2 linked regions of the Homo sapiens genome follow. The protein of the gene in region 1 purifies or fractionates together with the protein of each later gene. This does not show direct contact. Each region holds a gene or a part of one and is shown on either strand. Other genes may lie near its edges.

What was found.
Region 2: the proteins of ATP2A2 (region 1) and SLN purify together in Homo sapiens (affinity purification with western blotting; 2 studies listed by BioGRID). This does not show direct contact.

Annotation. Positions count from the first base shown.
Region 1 is NC_000012.12:110,278,912-110,282,824, reverse strand, and holds the start of ATP2A2 (sarcoplasmic/endoplasmic reticulum calcium ATPase 2), read right to left. Parts: upstream 1,579-3,913; 5' UTR 1,036-1,578; coding exon 918-1,035; intron 222-917; coding exon 204-221; intron 113-203; coding exon 30-112; intron 1-29.
Region 2 is NC_000011.10:107,710,604-107,714,516, forward strand, and holds the start of SLN (sarcolipin), read right to left. Parts: upstream 1,454-3,913; 5' UTR 1,360-1,453; intron 1-1,359. UniProt on the Homo sapiens protein: Reversibly inhibits the activity of ATP2A1/SERCA1 and ATP2A2/SERCA2 in sarcoplasmic reticulum by decreasing the apparent affinity of the ATPase for Ca(2+). Also inhibits the activity of ATP2A3/SERCA3.

The sequences.
Region 1 (3,913 bases):
GGAAAGAAAATAAATTTTTTTATACTTACAAAAGATATACATGCTGCCAGTAATAAAATCCTAACTAGCAAGTCTTCAAACTGCTCAATCACAAGTTCCAGCAAGGTTTTTCCTGTAAGAAACAAACACATGTGTTTTAACTGTCATCTTACCATCAGCACACCAACAGAGGAAAAAAAACAGAAACAGCATGTTAAGATTACCTTCTTCAGCCGGTAACTCTGTAGAATGTAGAAATTCGTCAAGCAATGTGTCAAGAGGGAGGTTAAAAAAAAAAAGAGAGAGACATTTTAGCACTTCGTTTTTCTAAAAAGAACTGCTACAATTCTAAGCATCAATATCTTTAAAACACAGACCTAGCTATAAGAATATCCGATTTTTTTAGCAGAGGGCATACCACGAAGATATCTCAAGGAAGCATGCACTCTTTGTAATCAATGGCCTGAGGTCTAGCCCTAAGCGTGAAATCACTTCGGGCTCCTGAACCTAGGAGTGGTTTCAGCGATGTCATCACTTCTGCCAGATGTGTAACTTTGGGTAGGACAAGAACGGTCAGAGGCCTTCCAACGACCTCGACTCCTCATAAATCGGCAGGGGACGAGAAAACGTCTTGCCGGGCTCAACCTAGCTGCAGAAGCCACGTCCCTCCCTCCACCGGGGCCGGCTGCTGCTGGAGAGAAGCCTCCGAGCCTTGCGCGCCGAAAAGGTCGAGGGCCCGAGAAGCGAAGAGGTCCAGGGAAGGCGAGGCGAGGACCGCAGCCCCTTTCTCTCCCGCGGGGCCGGCGCGCTGGCCCGACCCTCCGCCCGCAGCTGTCGGCGGGCGCGGAGCCGAAGCCCACGAGGTGGAGCCCGGTCAGCCATCTTCCCTGGCTCTCCCGGCCGCGCCGGGCCCCTGCAGCGGAGCGCCCTGCACCTACCGTTGGAGCCCCATCTCTCCTTAAGCTTCTTGACCTGTTCCAGGCTCAGCCCCGTACTCTCGTTGACGCCGAAGTGGCCCAGCACCTCCTCCACCGTCTTGGTGTGCGCGTTCTCCATGGCTTCGGGGGCCCGGCCGGCCTCGCCTCCCGTCCCCGCGGCCTCCTCGCCTCCGCCTCGCACTCCGGCCGCGGGCTCGTGCCACCCCGGGAGCCCAGGCGCGGACGGGCTCTCCCCTCCTCCTCTTGCGGCCGCTTCCGCCTCGCCGGGCGCTGAATCACCCCGCGCCCCCTCCCCCAGACAACCGCCCCTCGCGCGGCCCCGAGCTCCGCAGGGCGGGTTGGGGGCTCCTGACCCACCCTCCCTCCCCTCGCCAGAAGGGAGGGCCTCCCTCGCCCTCAGCCGCCCGCCGGGAGGGCAGGCCGCGGCCCCCGAGCCCCCTCCCCGCTCTCTTGAGGCGATCAGAGGCCCCGCCCGGGCCGGAGGAGGGGGCGCCCGGCAGACCACTGAGGGCGGAACGCGGCGAGGGAGGCGAGCCGGCGGGGCGGTGCGCGGCGCGCTCGCCCGGGTCCCTCAGCGCCGCACGCCCGACAGCGGCGGAGGAAACTGCGGCGAAGGAAAAGGAGGTGGCGTCGGGGACGGCTCCGCGGCGGCTGCTCTAATAGCATTTATCGGCCGCTGCCTCCCCTTTCGCCGCCGCCGCGGCATGTGGACGCCGCTCATTGGCCGAGAGCGCCCAGCGCGGCGCGGGCGGCGCGGCCCCGCCCCCTCCTCCCGGCTCCCTCCTCCCGCGCGCCTGGCGCCCACGCTGCCGCGCAGGCCCCGCCCCCTCCCGCGCGCCGCCCCTAGGAACCCGGATCGAGGCCGCGCGCGCCGCGGTCGCGGGGCTGGCGGAGGGGAAGCTGGGTACCCTCTTCTGTGCCTGCGGTTCTCTGACCCACCCACCTGCAGACGCAGGGTGGGGCGCTCACAGTGGGCACGCTGCTCTGGGGCCGGTGGGCGGATGGTTGGAAGGCGAGGCCGAGGAGCTGGGAGCGCGGTCCACGCGGGGCGTCTCGAGGCGCCCTCGGGCTGATGTCCTTGGCTCGCCTCCTCGCCCTCGGTCGCCCGGGCTGCGCTCTGCATCCTAATCTGGCTCCTTCAGAGCCCCCCTCAGAAACCAAGGGGAGGAATTCCGCAGTTCACTTCCCACACAACCCAAATCCTTCATCTGTCGCCTCGGGAACACCGCATCCTACACCCCCTGCCGCCAGCTCCTTCGCACGCCAGCCCCGATTCTTCCCCAGCGGGTTCTGGGCCCTGACGAGGGAACCCCCCTCGCGGGGGGGAGGGAGAAGAGTTGATTTTATTATTAATAGCTGACGCAGCGCTTGATAGGTGTCTGCAGGGCAGTCACAGTTCACGCCGCTGGAGCTGCCACACAGCAGCTAGACTTGGGCTAGGAGGTGCTTCGCTGTGGCTTTCAGATGAAGGCCATTTCATAGACTCACTTCCCTCGACAGGAGAAAAGGGGACTTGAATCCAAAGCTGCTCTTAAACCACAGATGATTTGCTCTGCTCGGGAGGACAAAGCGCAGGTCACAGCAAGATAAAGGGAATTTTGCCAATATAAAGAAGCTACATTACTTAACAAGGGGATGGGAAATTGCATGGAATTCATGAACAAAACATGAACATATTCTCTTCACAAAGAAGAGCAGCTTTCTTCACGGAGTAGGTTGCAGAATGAAGCAATTAGTCCACTTTTGTGTTTAACAATAACGCACCATCCGCATGAGCAAAAGCAGAGCAGAAAAATCACCTCAGTTGTCTCAAGTGGCTGGGCTTCAGGACTTAAGATAAATTCCTTCAGCAGATGCAAATTACAGTGCATCACCAGCTGAAAAAATCAGGCACGTCATGTCATTTAATTATTTCCAAGGAGTGGACGTTGGCATGTAGTTTTGATTGATACTTGGAAAAGAACCAACAAAACCCTACACGAAACAAACAAACAAAAAATTATACTATATGGCAACGCACTGAGAGAAGCCAGGTGGAAACTGGTTAGGTCACAGGATCAGAGCCGCTTCAAGAGGGGCACGTGAGTGCACGGTGGGAGTGTGGTCATGGAGGGCTGGCTGTTGTTGCCCTCTGAGACCAGCTCTGCACCATTTCGTACCAATTCTTCTCCCTTACCTCCTCTGTCTCTTTCAGGACCGATAGAAGCACTGCAGGCAGGAGAAGGATGGTTTACCTTTCTCAGCCTGGAAATTAGCTTAGGCATTTGATGTTGAATATTCTGTGCCACTGTCACTGCTTGGGGTTGTAAGCACCTCTGGTGCAATTATGAGCTTCTGGAGGAGTTCCTGACCTCAGCCTTTGTATGGAATGCTCTTCCCACAGATCTTCTTCACTTGTGTCGTTCTCTTTCCATTCAGATCGCAGCTTACATGTCCCCTCCTCAGAGATGTCTTTGCTGTCTAAAGTGGCTACCCAGCCACAGTGGCTCACGTCTGTAATCCCAGCATTTTGGGAGGCTGAGGCAGGAGGATCCCTTGAGCCCAGGAGTTTGAGACCAGCCTGGGCAATATAGCGAGACTCCATCTCTACTAAAAAAAAAAAAGAAAAAAATTAGCTGGGCGTGGTGGCCTGAACCTTTAGTCCCAGCTACTCAGGAGGCTAAAGAGAGAGGATCGCTTGAACCCAGGAGGTCAAGACTGCAGTGATCTGTGATCACGCCACTGCACTCCAGCCTGAGCAACAACAGAGTGAGACCTTGTCTCAAAAAAAAAATTAAATAATAAATAAATTAAAAAGTGGCTACTCTCGGCAATTCACCTTCCATCACATTTTTCAGTTTTCTTTTCTTCTTTTTTTTCCTTTGAGACAGAGTCTCTCTCTGTCACCCAGGCTGGAGGACAGCAGCACAATCCCAGCTCACCACAACCTCGGCCTCCTGGGTTCAAGCAGTTCTTGTGCCTCCGCCTCCCAAGTAGCTGGGACTACAGGTGCACGC
Region 2 (3,913 bases), on another chromosome or scaffold:
AATTGTCACTGCAATTAACTGGCCTGGCTAAACAAAGTTAGCATAAATTTTCAACCACTTTGGAAAACAATTTAGCTTTCTTAGAATTAATGTTGAAAATGTTCATTCTCTAATATCTGGCATTTCACTTCTACCTTAAGACAGTCAAGGACGTGCGTGCCAGGTTACATAAATAAAGAGTTCACAGCAATATTATCACAATAACTCCAAACTGGAAACAACTCAAATGTTTATCAACAGCAGAATGGATGATAAATTGTGGTATAGTTATACATTTGAATTTCATAAAGCAAAGAAAATATATGAACTATAGCTACACAGAAAATGGGTAGATCTCACAAATATAATTGTTGGGTGAAAGAAGAATTTACAAAAGAAACAGAGAATATGACTCCATTTATATGATGTCAAAAATAGGGAGGTTAATCATATTGTTTAGGCATGCAGACATAGATGGTCAAATTATAAAGAATAACAGGGACAAGAGGATCCCAACATCTTGGGGCAGAATGGGGGTTGATCAAGAATGGGCTTCTGGGTGCTGGCAATGATCTGTTTCTTGACCTGGATGATAATTATAGAAGTGTTGCCTTTCAGTTATTGTTTAAACTGTGTATGTTTATGCACTCTTAACTTTTTTTTTTTCAGTCATTTCTGAATTAGCAGGCTACCCATCACACTTCTTTCTTTCTTGGGATTTACCTCTTACTACTTCTTGCACTTTAATGGTGACCTTGAATATTTGTTGTTTTATGTGATTTTAGATGAATAAAACATGAAGAGTTAAGGTGAGAATTTCTAGTGAATTCAATTCAATCAACACATATGCTAACTGTAAGGTGTGGTGTGAACATTCCTTTCACACACATTTATACACTTTAGGAAGAATGAACCAGTTAGGCAGAAATTCAGATCAGCCAAGTTCCATTTTTCTGCTTTTAACCAATAAAGACACTTTGGGTTTCATTTTAAACATTCCCTGAAGTCAAGGTCATGCCATATGATCCAGTGATTGCAAATGGATGAACTAAAACCCAAAAAGCTCTGAATAAATTGTGCAGGAAGTTTGACATTGGCTTTCTTTGAATGGAGACTTAGAGAAGATAGAAAAAAGACCATCTTCCATAATACAAGAAAGAAAAAAAATTTTTTTTTACTAGGAAGGGAGAAAATGCATACCCTTAGGAGAAAAAAAAAGGAAAACAGAAAGCAATAGTACTCACTTTATATCTTAAGGCATGCTGTATCCAAGGGGCATTGCCTATTTCATTAAGAAATGCAAACATTCCTCTGCCTTTCTCATTTGCAGCTTGTACACACACACACACCGTATGCTAAGCATAAAAATCCTGCAGTTACCTGAAGAGGATCAAAGACACACCCTGGCTATGGCAGGTTTCTCCTCGCTGTCTCCAACTTGAGCTCCAACTCCTTCTCCCCTCCCAGGCTGTCTGGACTCCTGGACTCTGGGCAGCGCCTAAAGTAGTCCGTGGAAGCTGGCAATCACTGTGATGTCACTGATGAAACATCTCAAAGGAACACCCTCCGAAGGTTCGAGGCTATTTGTGTTCGGGGGACATGGAAATATGTTGACTAAGACTTTGTTCCTTTGGCTGCCAATTTGCCACCACCAGGATTTAAAAACCTTCTGTTTCCAGTTGACTTTTAGTGCAATTGATGTGGGTTTTAAATGTGTCTTTTACATCTTCATGAATAACTTTAACATGTCTTTAAAACATCATAAACCAAGAATGATAGACTAATTTTAACCAATCGATGCTGCATTTGACTGCTCTCCCTAGTCAGCCTGTGAGGTGTAAAAATGTGACTTCATTTTACCACCCATATCTTTAGTTATTTGAAATGTGAAGAGTTTGCTGCCTTACACCCACACATATGCACACCCATACACACACACACACACTCCAGAATTCAATAGGCATCTTTAGCTCTTTCAAAACTGACTTTAGTCCAAGCAGTGAAAGCTATCCCCTCCGTCACCTGCTCCACGTAACTTTCCAGCTAAGCTGTGCATTGCAAGTTTACACGTGGATCTACAGTTTCATCTGAAACAGCCGAGGAAGTCATGGTTTGTATATCTCTGGCAATAAATTAATAGAGCAGTAAACTCACACAGTTCAACTCAGTTATTTGGATAGATTGGGAGTGGAAGGAGAACTGGGTAAAATTAGTGAAAAATGTGAATTATAGAATATATCTGAAAGAAAGAAAAGTATTATATAACTTTCTAATATGAACACTAACTAAAATTAGACTAAGATGAGTTTGTAACCAATGTATCACATGTTTGGAGCCCCTGAAGTGTTAAATTAGACTTGAAAGCAGATCAATTAAGTACTTTAAACATGACCCTAGCAATTGTGTTTGCTCAGCAGATCCTTTCTTTATAGATAATAGAGGAAATCTCCCCCTCTGAATTCCCAATTAGGGTCAATCAAAATAATGCATTCCCAAAAGGCATAAACAAACAAAATTCTCTATGCAGTTATGCTCATAGTCAAACCTTTCCCTCCATTCCTCATACCCCAGAGACATTACCAAAACAAGACTTTCCATTTCATTTCCTCATTTTAACATAAGCTTAGCAACGGGTAATCTTAATACAACATTCTGTCACCACTTGTCTTGTGAAAAGAGCGCTTGCTGAAGTGACAGAGAGTGTATAATAATTATAGTGCAACCGAACATTGGCAGTTATCTGTTGCCATCTGGCAAACTCCTTGAATGTAATCAGAGTTCTGTCTTCTGCCTCCAAGCTCTCACTAGATTGTTTCCCAGGCTGGGAATGTTTTTCTAGTTACCAAGCCACACCTGTCCCTTTTTGTAACCACTCAAAATTATTTTTTGTCAAATTAAAAAAGTTATATATTTATTGTAGGACATGTGAAAATATATTAAAGTATTTAAAACTTTTAAATTACTTTTAATCTCACCACCCAAAGGGGAAAAAAACAAAACTTTACTTTACTTTTTTTTTCTTTTGAGATGGAGTTTTGCTCTTGTCACCCAGGCTGGAGTGCAGTGGCGTGATCTCAGCTCACTGCAACCTCCGCCTCCCGGGTTCGAGCGATTCTCCTGCCTCAGCCTCCTGGGTAGCTGGGATTACAGGCATGCACCACTATGCCTGGCTAATTTTTGTATTTTTAGTAGAGATGGGGCTTCACCATGTTGGCCAGGCTGGCCTTGAGCTTCTGACCTCAGGTGATCCAACCGCCTCAGCCTCCCAAAGTGCTAGGATTATAGGTGTGAGCCACCGGGTGCCCGGCCTACATTACTTTTTATTCATCCGTTTGAGGCTGCATAGGCACAATCTCAAATTCCCAGGATATTTTTGGTAAAAGAATCTGAAACTTGAAAACCTTTTTTCTTAATTCATTTGGAATCAAATTATTTGTAGTATATCATGTGTTGATATTAGGTTTATGGGATAAGCATTTATTTTGTACATCTCAGATTATGAATTAGCTCTACAATATTTAAAATGTTAAATACAATAGCGAAATGTTAACGTATCACCAAAAGAGCTCTCCAATGTTGTCATTTTGTTGAATTGGTCAATTTCAAAGTAACTTAGAAGAAAAATTCTACTTCTTATTTGACCGAATTGATGGGTTAGTCTGGTTTGCCTCATTTAAGCATGTCTAAGCTGCACCAAGGACTACTGTGCCCAGTGCATTGACAAATTCCCAGACTTCAGACGCTTCTGAAAATTAGTGGTTTCTTCTGTAATGTCAAGAGATTGGGATTACACTTGGAATGTAGTTATCACTAGTTTAGCTTTACCCTCTCCAGAAACACATGCAAGCCGCCCCAAATCACCTGACAACTACTCAAAGGCATAAGGAGGGTTTAACCCTCAGGATCTGCAGGTTTGCTTAAAAAAAAAAAAAAA